Regions from separate parts of the Homo sapiens genome. Here region 2 is linked to region 1. The links come from fine-mapping of genetic effects on gene expression. A gene starts in region 1. The other region holds a variant in brackets. All regions are shown on one strand. Distances are between the middles of the regions.

What was found. PIP is the estimated chance that this variant, and not a neighbour inherited with it, causes the effect.
Region 2: its variant is the best candidate, but not a certain one, in a credible set for the expression of CTBP1-DT in whole blood (INTERVAL, PIP 0.70).

Annotation. Positions count from the first base shown.
Region 1 is chr4:1,246,998-1,252,350 of GRCh38, forward strand. CTBP1-DT (CTBP1 divergent transcript) reads left to right here and starts at 2,443. Exons shown (of 2, transcript NR_033339.1): 1 at 2,443-2,475; 2 at 3,114-5,353. CTBP1 (C-terminal binding protein 1) reads right to left here and starts at 2,133. Exons shown (of 10, transcript NM_001012614.2): 1 at 1,919-2,133. RefSeq lists silencers at 1,022-1,741, 1,912-2,841 and enhancers at 3,212-3,261, 3,322-3,411.
Region 2 is chr4:1,401,451-1,406,803 of GRCh38, forward strand. It overlaps NKX1-1 (NK1 homeobox 1), which reads right to left and starts at 4,992. Exons shown (of 2, transcript NM_001290079.1): 1 at 4,530-4,992; 2 at 1,482-2,365. The coding sequence starts at 4,992. The coding sequence ends at 1,482. RefSeq lists a silencer at 1,771-2,065 and an enhancer at 4,353-4,943. The variant C/A (reference allele first, on the strand shown) is at 2,997.

The sequences.
Region 1 (5,353 bases):
AGCCCACAGGACTGGACCAAGGCTCGTCCCACTCATCAGAGGGACAGGACCAGCCCACAGTCCTGTGCACCCCGGGCCAAGCCTCTCCTCCCCCACTGCCACGTTCTCAGGTTAATGACAAGCGAGTAAAAGGGAAGATCCTACTCGCTGACATCCCCAACCACACGCCCACCTCTCAGAACTAACAGCTGCCCTGGTCAAGGCTGACAGGAAGAAGTGCATGTTGGGGACATGGCAGACACCCCAAAAATGGCCGGGCAGGCGGACGAGGCACCCCCAGGAGTGACCAGATGCCACCCCCAGTGCGTGTCCCTCCCAGAGCTCTGCAGAGGACGCCTGTATGGAAGCAGGTGCTCAAAGATGGGCAACAGAATCACAGAGAGCAAAAGGCGTCTGCGGAGCCGACAGCCCCAACCAGGAGCCAAACCCAGACCCCAGAGGGAGGTGGCCAGGCCCGGGCAGGCAGGGGAGACCTGGGAGGCCGGGTGCTGAGGCCCAGGGCAGAGCCACGCCCTACAAAGTTCCAGGACACAGAAAGGGGGACCCCCAAACCGCAGCTGTCATCCTCAGCTGCAACGGCAAATAGTTACCCCACGGTTCTCCCCCAACCCTGCCCCAAGCTGCAGACGGGTACACAGACGCGCAAAGGCCACGCGCTAGGAGCTCAGCGAGGACGGCCGCGGTGCGGGCCCAGCCGCCAGCGCCGTTTTCTTCCCGAGGGACGTGTGCTCCCTGCCGCGCTCCTACAGAAACGGTGGAGAGGCCGGGGAGGGGGGGGGGGCTCGGGCTCAACGGAACACCCTGCGCACCCGCCGCCTCGGCCCTAGCTCCAGGCCCTCTTGCCCCAACTCTCAGGGTTTCACCTCCCCACTCAGGGCACCGGGAAGGGCGCGACCGCCTTCCCTTTTCCCCACTGGAAGGGAATTCTGTCCCGGCAATCACGGAGACGACAGCAAAAGGGATCTGGCCCAGGCCGGGCTTCCAGACACCGGCGCCCTTGGAGGCCGCCAGAGAACGCTCCAGTCTCGGCCCGGGGCTCAGGCGCACGGACTCTGCCTTTGCAGCCGGGTCGAGGGAAAGAGAGGCTCCGCGCAGCGGCTCGGGCCGGCCCAGGACGCGGGCGCTGCAAGATGGCGATGGTGGCAAGCCCGGCGCCCGCCCGTGCTCCCTGCTTCCGCGGCCGCAGCCCGCGAGGAAGGCGCCCCGGGACCTGGGCGGGCCCAGGCAAGGGCAGGTGGGGGCGCTGGGCCGGTCCGGGACCTCGCGGAGTTCGCGGGAACGGAGACCCCGGGCCCTCCCGCGTCACCGCCGGGGGCTGCGCTTTGGGCCCGGTCTGAGGGCAGCGGCCTCCTCCACGGTCATACCCGGCACCCGCGCCCCGTCCCCTTCCCCCACAGCGCGCGGCCACGGTCGCCGGCGGCCTCCCCGCGGGAGGCGCGCTCCCGCGAGTGGCCCGGGAGCGCGCGCCCCAGGACACCCCGAGCTGCGCACGGCTCCCGCCCCATCCCGGCCCCGCAGGCCCAGCCACGGGGTCATGACCGGGGACGGGGTAGCGGCCGGGGATCGGGACCCGGGGTGCCGTCCCGGGTCCGACGGGGCTGGGGTCGGTGGAGCTGGGGGTCCGGCGGGGCAGCCCAGAGGCCCACAGGCCCTTTTGTGTCACCTGCACGGGCCGCGGGCGGGGAGAGCAGACTGCGGCGCTCGCGCACACGCAGCGGCCCGCGCATGCGCAAGACCCTTCCCGCGGTCCCGCCCCCGACCGCGGCCACGCGCGGACGCCGGCGCGCACGCGCACTCGCACACAAAGCCGGCGGCCCGCGGGCGCGCGCTCGGTCCGCCCCCGCGCCCCCCGCCCGCGCGGCACCCGCCCCGCCCCGCCCCCGCCCGCGGCCGGAAACGCGCGCGCGCGCGGCCTTACCAAGCGGCAGGCCCTTGTTGAGCAAGTGCGAGCTGCCCATCGAGAGGCGCGAGCGGCCGCGGGCCCCGACCACTCCGGCGCGCTGCGCCGCCGCGAGCCCGGCGCGTGGGGCGGCCTCGGCGCCGTCCGCTGCTCCGCCCGCCCGCCTGCGCCTGGCCGCCGCCGTGCCGAGTCTCCGCCGCGCCGCTGAGCCGCGCTCCGACGACCGCGCGGGCGGGGACACGGCGGCGCGCGCGGGCGGGGCCTCGCGGTTGGTCTCCTGGTTCCCAGCGCGGGCGGCGCACGGACTCACGCGGGCGGCTCAGGGCCCGCCCGGCCGGGACGCGGCTGCGGGGCGGGGCGGGGCGGGAGCCTGGCGGGAAGCTCGCGGGGCTGCAGCCCGGCGGAGGCCCCGGGCCTGGTGTTCCGCACGTTCTAAACCGCCTGTCCCCGAGGAAGTCGGGCAGGGTCGGGCCGGACTCAGCGCCGCTGGCGGGAGCGCCGTCCGCCCCGAGGACCCTGCGGGCCCGGAAGCCGAGACAGGGCCGCCCACGTCAGCGCCTGGCGCGGGCCCGAACGTAAATGGCGCTCCTCCGCGCCGCAGCCGCAGCCGCCCCGCTCCCTTCCCGCTCCGCCAGCTGCCGCCCTCCCGCGCTCGCTTCTCGCCCCGCGGCCTGGCCCGTGCGCCTCCGAGGCTGGCCAGGGGCACCGAGGCCGCGGGCCCCCCATCGCCCCCACCCGAGCCCTGATTTACCGTCCGAGAGCCGGCGGCACATGGGACCCCGAGAGGAGAAGCGCGCCTGCCCCAGTGCGTCCCCAGGCGGGGGAGCCCCGACTCCTGGAGGGACCGCGTCCTGCCCGGCCCGGGAAGTTCAGGGCTGGAGAACCCCTTCCCCGACCCCATTTCTCTTTTAACAAGAGTAGGGTTTGTAGCTAACCAACGTCCTGACAGCTCAGCTCTGCTTTCCCTTTAAGCATTAATATCAAAGCCCTGCCTGCTACCGGTGAAGCCCCGACCCGGGAGGGCCCGAAAGTCCCTTCAGGGAGAGGCCGCACTGGGCCTGCTCACCCAGGGGCTGCCCCTGCAGACTCTCCCGAGGGGCCCAGGGATATTCCTCGCGCCGCGAGTGGACGCTTCCATCCACCCCATGGGGAGGGCCTCTGCGCGTGGCTACTCTGAGCCCTCTGGAATGCCGAGATAGTTGCATAATTTCAGAAACCACGGCATGGAGACGGAATGATGCAGACTCCTATCCGCGAGATACCTGCTGTAATTTCGCTGTGGTTCGTGAGGACGCGTCCTGGGCTGCCCTGAGAAGCCTACGTCTCCCCTTCGAGGCCCGGGAAGACCTCCAACCCCGCTGACAATGCTGGGCCCTCAGCCAGACCTGCCCTGCGTGCCACGTTCTGTTCTAAGATCGGGCTGCCGAGCTGTGGCCTGGAGGAAACCTGGCAGGTGTCACCAGAGCTTTGGGGAGGGTGAGGCCCTGTCGGGGAAGCCCAGTGGGAGTCATGAAGGAGGGAACACGTGTGGAGCCCTTGTAGGGGGAGGGGCAGCCCTGCAGAGATCTAAGAAAAAATTCCAGAAAAATGAGCAGCAACCTCCAAGGCCAGGCATCGGTGCAGGGGACAAGGGGTCGTAGCTGGAGGGGCCTAGGTGAGGCTGCCGGGAAGGGACGATGTGGTTGGTGGAGTGCACAGGCAGGGACCTCACTGGACTTTCCTGTCTGCTCAGCATGGACAGGCAGCCCAGGAGAAGGCAGCACGTGGCCGGGTGCAGGGACGTACCACCCCCACTTCCCCAGGGGAGCTGGGGTCAGACGAGTCCCAGGCACTCCATCCTCTGCAGCAAGTCAGGTTGTGATTTACTAGGGGGTGGTGAATATAATGGAGAGACTTCTGGGGAGGAATTCCTGGCTCCCGCGTGGACTTGCAGAGCTCAACAGGCAGCCACGTGGCTGAGTGTCCAGCAAACATCACATAAGGCTTTGGGTCCTGCAGGTGGGGCTGCCATGAGCAGCAAGCTCAGTCCAGAAGAACAGTTCCTCTCCAGGATCCACTTCCTGCGCACTTTTATGTGCAGTGTAGCTGGAGCAGAGCTCCCCGGAATTCCACAGGCAACTGAGAACGGAGAGGGATGCAGGCCAGCCAGGGATCCAGCGTCTTCCCCATCGTCACTCTCCATGGCCTCCGTCTACACACAGTGTTCGTCTGCACAGCTTGTCAGCGCGTTATCATGACTTCTATTTGGCACCGGCCCGTCTGTCCACTGTCCTGGCTTGTTCCAAGCGCTGCCTTCTCCAACTGGGGTCCTGGCTGCAGAGCTGTCTGCTCCCCACGTTGGGCAACTCCAGCCAAGATTCCTACACCCAAATGTGACCGTGTTGCTCACGAAGAAGGCTCAGCTTTGCGTGTGCCCAGCCGTGTGCACAGCTCGTCCCAACTCCTGCGGGTGGCACCTGCCTCTCCCACCTCCAGTCTTTCCCCTGTGATGAGCAGATGACCACCGCCCTCCAGGGTCAGCGTTTGGCTGTTTGTGTGCCTGCCCACCCGCCTCCCTGTGCCTGGGCCTGCCCTGTGCCTGCACACAGGAGTGGCTCATGGCGTTTGCCCTACACGGATGGGCTGTCCTGGGAGCTACTGGACAGTCACCTTGGTGGGAATGCCAGAGGCATGGGCATTAGGTCCCCCCGGCCAGCCTCCGTTGCCACATGGGCTATTTTTGTCCATCGCGTGGGACAACCTAGTATTGGGGGAAAACTCAGTCCACTCTAAAGAAGCATCGGCGTTTTGGATGGACGAATGCTGCTTCATGCGACTCCATGTCAATGGACTATTTTATTCAACTCGGGTATTTATGAGTGTCTCCTCTGTGCCAGCCACGTGTGAAAGAAGAACTCCAAGTTACTGGACACCAGGACAAACCAGGTAGATCACTGCATCCGGTTCCTCCTCTTTCTGCCGACTCTCCCGGGCAACCGTTCTGATTCCTGGCATGGAGTTGGGGGCGAGCTCATCAGTACCCAGAGCGCCTGGTGTGCAGCCAAAGGCCCCCATTTTATTAGTCGGTGTGTTCAGTATCACGCTCAAGACAAGGGCCAACCTATTACTTCACACACCTCAAATACAAAAAGTGCCTGGGAACGTCGATGAGGTATTAAAGGAAACCACTGGTCTTGTCAGTCATGTACACACAGAAAAAAAAACCAGTCATTTTTATTTTTATTTTTTGAGACAGAGTTTCGCTCTTGTTGCCCAGGCTGGAGTGCAATGGTGCAATTTCAGCTCACTGCAATCTCTGCCACCCGGATTCAAGCAATTCTCCTGTCTCAGCCTCCCGAGTAGCTGGAATTGCAGACACCCATCACCACGCCCAGCTAATTTTATGTATTTTTAGTAGAGATGGGGTTTCACCATGTTGGTCAGGCTGGTCTTGAACTCCTGACCTCAGGTGAT
Region 2 (5,353 bases), 150 kb after region 1:
TCAGGCCGGCCCTTGGCTGGAGGAACCAAGGCCTGCCTGGGGCTTGGGGTGTGGGGGCAGCAAACACACAGGGTGATCCCAGCCGCCCCTGCGCCCCGCCCCCTCAACCTGCCCGATGGCCGGTGCTGCTCTGGGCCTGCTCTCTGTCCACAGGTGCTGGCCAGGCCAGTGGGCAGCAGTGTCTCCCATCTTGCCTGTGGCACTGGGTATTCACTGCCGCCACCTGCCCCCAGCCCTCCCCCAGTGGTTGCTGTCAGGTTGACAGCCCAGAGATGAGCTCAGCCCACTCACGGAAAATGGACAGGACACCAGGAGACTGGGCCCAGTCAGGGCACAGCCGCCAGGCAGAGCCAAGCTCCCTCTGTGAGGCAGGACTCAGGACTCCCGCCAGTGGCAGAAGAGGGGCAGCACCTGCCCGGCTGTGGCCAGTGTCTCATGCCGCCTCCCCACCCTTTCTGGGGCTCTGAACCCTCCTCCCGTCGCCCTTCCCCGCTTCCAAGCACCAGCTTTTGCATCCACACTGCCGCCCAGCCCAAGCGCCTCTGCCTCTCACCTCCCTGAGCCCAGCTCAGGCGAACACCAAACCCACAGGACTCCGAGAGCCTGTGAGGGGATGTAGGGACTGTTTCCAGCGTCGTTGGAGGAGAGGTGGCAGCTCCAAGAGGGAGCACTCGACCCGACTTTTGGGGGCCTGGGTCTGAATGGGCTGGGACGCTCTTGGGCAGGTAGCTGAGCCCAGGCAGCCCCTTCTCCCCGGGGAAAACAGGCAGGCGCTTCTTCCTCCAGGCAGTAGCCGAAGCTGACACCGCCCCCAAGCTGACACGCCTAGCCCGGTGCTCCCTTGCGGGGCTGTGGGGCAGGGGAGTGGGACCGGAGCAGGCTGCAGGGGTGGGGAGCAGGAGGCGGAAAATGCCGCGGCCCCACCAGCTCCATGGCTAAGAGGAGAGGCGAAGAGGAAGCAGCTGGTCACTTTCCGAGACCTGTGATCTTTTTTGGGACGGGGAGGGGGCGGTCAGGGAGGTGACGCTGGGACCTGAGCCTCAGCCAGCTTGGCGGGTGAGCCCCTGCGCTCAGCCCCTGCGCCCACGACGACGGGCAGGCACCAGCAGAGTGGCCTGAATTCCGGCCGGGGGACGCCAGGCCGGTGGGAAAACGGGCTGGAGTCCCGCTCAAGGCCAACACCCGAGGAGCCTTGGTCCCCACCGGAGAGGATTCACGGGTGGGCCCGGCCGGGCGGAGGGCGGCGCGGGAGCCTGGGAGAAGGGGGCGCGGCCGCCTGCGGTTTATTGATTGAGTGAAGTTCCGCAAAGTGCTTCGCAGCGGGCCGAGCCCGCGGGAGCCACCTGCCCGGCCCCGACGCGCATGGTCATTTATAAATTTAAAACTCTTCCGTAGCAACCGGTTATGTACAGAGTCAACGACTGGAATCGTAGAAAACAGCCGGGCCCGGCAGCGGCCTCGGAGGCGGAGCGGCACGGGGCTCAGAGGTGCGGCGCGTAGAAGGCGGGCGCCCCGTAGGTCTGCGAGCCCAGCACGAAGGGCGAGAGCACCGCCGGGCTCGACAGGAACGGCAGCTGCGCGGCGCACACCAGGCCTCCGGGGCCGTGCGCCGGGTACCCGGCCGGGCCGTGCATGCCGAGCGGGGCGCCCATGGGCGGCGAGGGGCTGAGCGGGCTGAGGCCGCCGGGCAGCCCCGTGCCAGGCCCGGCCCCCGGTCCCGGTCCGCCCCCGCCGCCGGTCGGAGCGCTGGTGTCGGCGCCCGGGTTCTGCTTCTTCCACTTGGTTCGGCGGTTCTGGAACCAGATCTTCACCTGCGTCTCGGTGAGGCTGAGCGACAGCGCCAGGTTGAGGCGCTCGCACACCGACAGGTAGCGCGTGGCCTTGAACTTGTTCTCCAGCGCCACGAGCTGCTCGTAGGTGAAGGCGGTGCGCGCTCGCCGCGGCTTCCCGGACTTGGAGTCGGACCCCGTGCGCTTCCGCTTGGGCTTCGCCGCCGTCGCCGTGCCCTGCGGGGTGGTCCCCGCGCCCCCCGGCGCCGCTGCACCTCCCGGTGGGCCCTGGGCAACGGGCGAGTTCTCGCGGGGTCCGGGGGCCGCTGCCTCGTCGACGGTGGCTCCGGGGGACGCGTCGGTCTCAGCCGCGCCCTGGCAACCCGACCCGCGGGCCCCGAGGCCGCCGCCGCCTCCCCGCGCCTCCTCCGCGCCTCGCGCCGCCTCCGTCTCGGGCGCTTCGTCCTCGTCGTCGTCCTCGTCGTCGGGAACCTCGTCCCCGCTGTCCGCGCTCGGGCTGTGGCCGCCGCCGCCGCTGCTGTAGCCGTTGGTGTCGTTGGTCTCGGCCTCCCCTGCCTTGAAGGGGTCGCCGGCGTCTGCGGGAGGGAGGGACAAGGACAGGGCAGGGCAGTTAGGACCGGCCGGTTCCCAGATCCCGCCCTCCGCGCGCCCCGCTTCCTCCCCCAGGGTTCCCTCCCGCCCCCTGCTCAGCGCCTCCTGCTTCGTCACCCGCCTCCTCTCTCTCTCCTTCGCTCTGTCGTTTCCCTCCCCTCGGCCTGTCCTTCCCTCCCGCCGCCCGCGTCTCCTCTCGGTCCCTTGCTTGTTTCTTTCTATGGAGAGGGTCCCCCTCGCCCCGCGCTGCCCGTTCTCGCGGCGCCGGGCGTTTTTGCCTGAGCGGGGCTGGACGGGTGCTGCGGGCCGGGCCCGGCTGCGGAGATCACAGCGGAGTGGAAGCTCTGATCGATCCGCAGGGCTGATACACACTTAATTAAACTCATTTTGTGTAGTGTACAAACTAGTTAAGGCCATTTAATTTATTTCGGCGTATATTACCCCCCAATTACCGCCGGCGCAGGGCCAGCCAATTGCCGGGCATTTAATAACAGGCCCGGCGGTGGGGCCGGAGCCGGCCGAGAGAATGGGGCTTGGGGGACCCAAATCCTATGCCCTGGCCCCGACCCTACCTCAAGCCTCCAGGCCCTGAGCTTCGGTCGCGAGGGTCAGCCC[C/A]GGCTCCCCTGCCCGCGCCTCGGCCCCTGCGCAGAGTTGCCGCGGGTAGGGCCCTGCTCGGCCTCACCAGGAGGGCTGGGCGGGCGTGCAGGTCGGAGTGGCTCCCCGCGGCCTAAAGGCCCGGTCGGCCGAGTCTGAACAGCAGCTCCGCATCCTCCAAGCAGAGGCCCTGAAGTGACTGCATTTTGAGTCTCTGAAATTTGGAAGAAAGCATCTCTCCCAGGCAGGGTCGCCTATGCCCCGGCACTGGGGGCCTAAGTCAGGAGGAGTCGGGGCAGGTGCCCTCCACAGAGCTGCCCAGCGGCAGCCGCGGCCTGCTCTCCGGCCAGGTCGGAACCGAAATCTCCGGTAAGAAATGACCAATCGCTCCTGTCAGATTCCTCCAGGGCGACTGGCCACCTGGCATGGAGGCCAGCAGGTGGTCTGGGTCCCCGCGACCCTCAGCAGGAGTAGGATCCGCCCCTAGACGACCGCGAGCGCCGTCCCAGCCCTGCCCCGGGTGCCTGGCCCAGATGACTCCCCGGCTGTAGTATGCGCGCGCCTTCCCGGCTTCAGCGGGATCCCGGCCTTCCGCCCCATAGACTCCCCGCAGGTGGAGGCTCTGAGCGCAGCCGCCGCAGAGTCCGTAGGGTCCCCTCCACTCAGCCGGATTTGTTCGCCCTCCATCTCGGCCGACCCGGAAGAGGCCCCGCGCAGGTGCGGCCCGCAGCCTCCAGGCGCAGAGCCGGTGGCCGCGGCCCAGCCCGGTCCGCCCCGCGCTGTCCTCCCTGTGCTTCAGTAGGGCCGGAAAGTTGGAGGGAGGAGGAGGGGACACAAAAAGCAATCAGGAGCAGGTCGAATGCAATTCGCGATCAATAGCGGCCCCTAATAAGTGTAATAGGTTTTAATCGAGTAATTATCCGAATTTTGACCCTATAATTTAGATGTTCGGGGGGAGTTTGCAAGGTGCTTGAAAGAGATATGCACGCGCCGTAATGGGATATCGACCCGACCGGGGGCGCGGGCCGCCCCATTACCGGCCGCTTTCCGCCGCTAAGCACATTTCCCCTTAACTGTAATCGAAGGGATTTAATTGTTTTTCCAGCGATAACCAGCGTTTTGTCACAATTAGTCTGATTTGTCCAAAAAAAAAGAGAGAGAGGGAGAAAGGAGGGAGGGAGGGAGGCCTCGGGCGGGCACAGTGGGGGCGGGGAGGTCACGGGCCAGCCACCGCGAGCGGCCCCTCGCCTCCTGCACCAACTACCCTTCTAGGCCGGAGACGCGCGGAGGCGAACCCTGGACCGGCCTCACAGCCCTGCAGCCCCTGGGCCTGACCCGGCTAAGCTTCTCCAGAGGAGCCTGGCGATGCAGGCCCTGCAGTCCGGGTCGGATGGAGGCCACGGGTGGGCTGGTGCGGACCCGGCGCTCAGCGAACTTTCCACGGAGCCTCGGCGTGGGCCAGACCCAACTCGCCACGGTGTCCCAGGGTCGTAAACGCATAGAAGCCTCCGGTCCCCCGTCCCTGCGACCTGGTGCCGGGCGCATCCTACTCACTCGGCGGCTCAGCTCCGGCGGCTCCGACTCCCCCGGCGCCGGCGAGGGCGCGGCGCTCCAGCTCCTCCGCGCGTGGCGGGCGTCCCGAGGCGGCGGGTGCAGGGGCGCATGGGGCCGAAGCGCAAGGGGCGCACGCAGCGGGAGCCACTGGGCCCAGCAGCACGCAACGACGCCTCCTGCTGTTGAACTTGTTGGGGTCCAGGATGTCCAGTACCGAGAAGGAGGTGGGGCGCAGGGGCGCTGCGGGCCGGGCCGCTCCAGCCCCCTCGGGCGCCGCAGGCACAGTGTCGCTGGCCGCGAGCGGCGGGGCTCCAGCGCGGGGAAAGGCCGGCAGCTCGGCGCGCCCGTCCATAGCTTCCTGGGCAGCGGCGGCGGGAGCGGGCGGTGCGGGCCCCGAACCTGGCTGGGGAGGCGGCGGTAGCGCGGGAATGTCCCCAGGAGCCTCGGGGCCGCTAGCGCTCATGCCGGCCTCCCGCCGCTCCGGCGGCTCGGGCCCCGCCACCTACTGGGCTCCCATCCCTGGCGGCCCCCGCACCTCCACACGACCCCGCGCAGGCGGCCGCTGCTCCGCTCGCTCTCGGCGCCGCGCCCTGCGCTTGGCCGGTGCTGCCTTCGCCGCCGCCTTAGGCGCCCGCGGCGCCCGGTCCGCGCATTTATGGCAGCCCCGCCGGAGGCGCCCACGCGCCCACACGCCGAACACACGTGCGCCCGCAGGCGGCCGCGGGGCTCCGCCGCCCTCGTTAGCGCGCGCGCCTAATTGGCTGCGAACGGTCCCGGGCCGAGGAGGCGGACCCCGCACAGGACACACGGACGGAGCCGCCGGG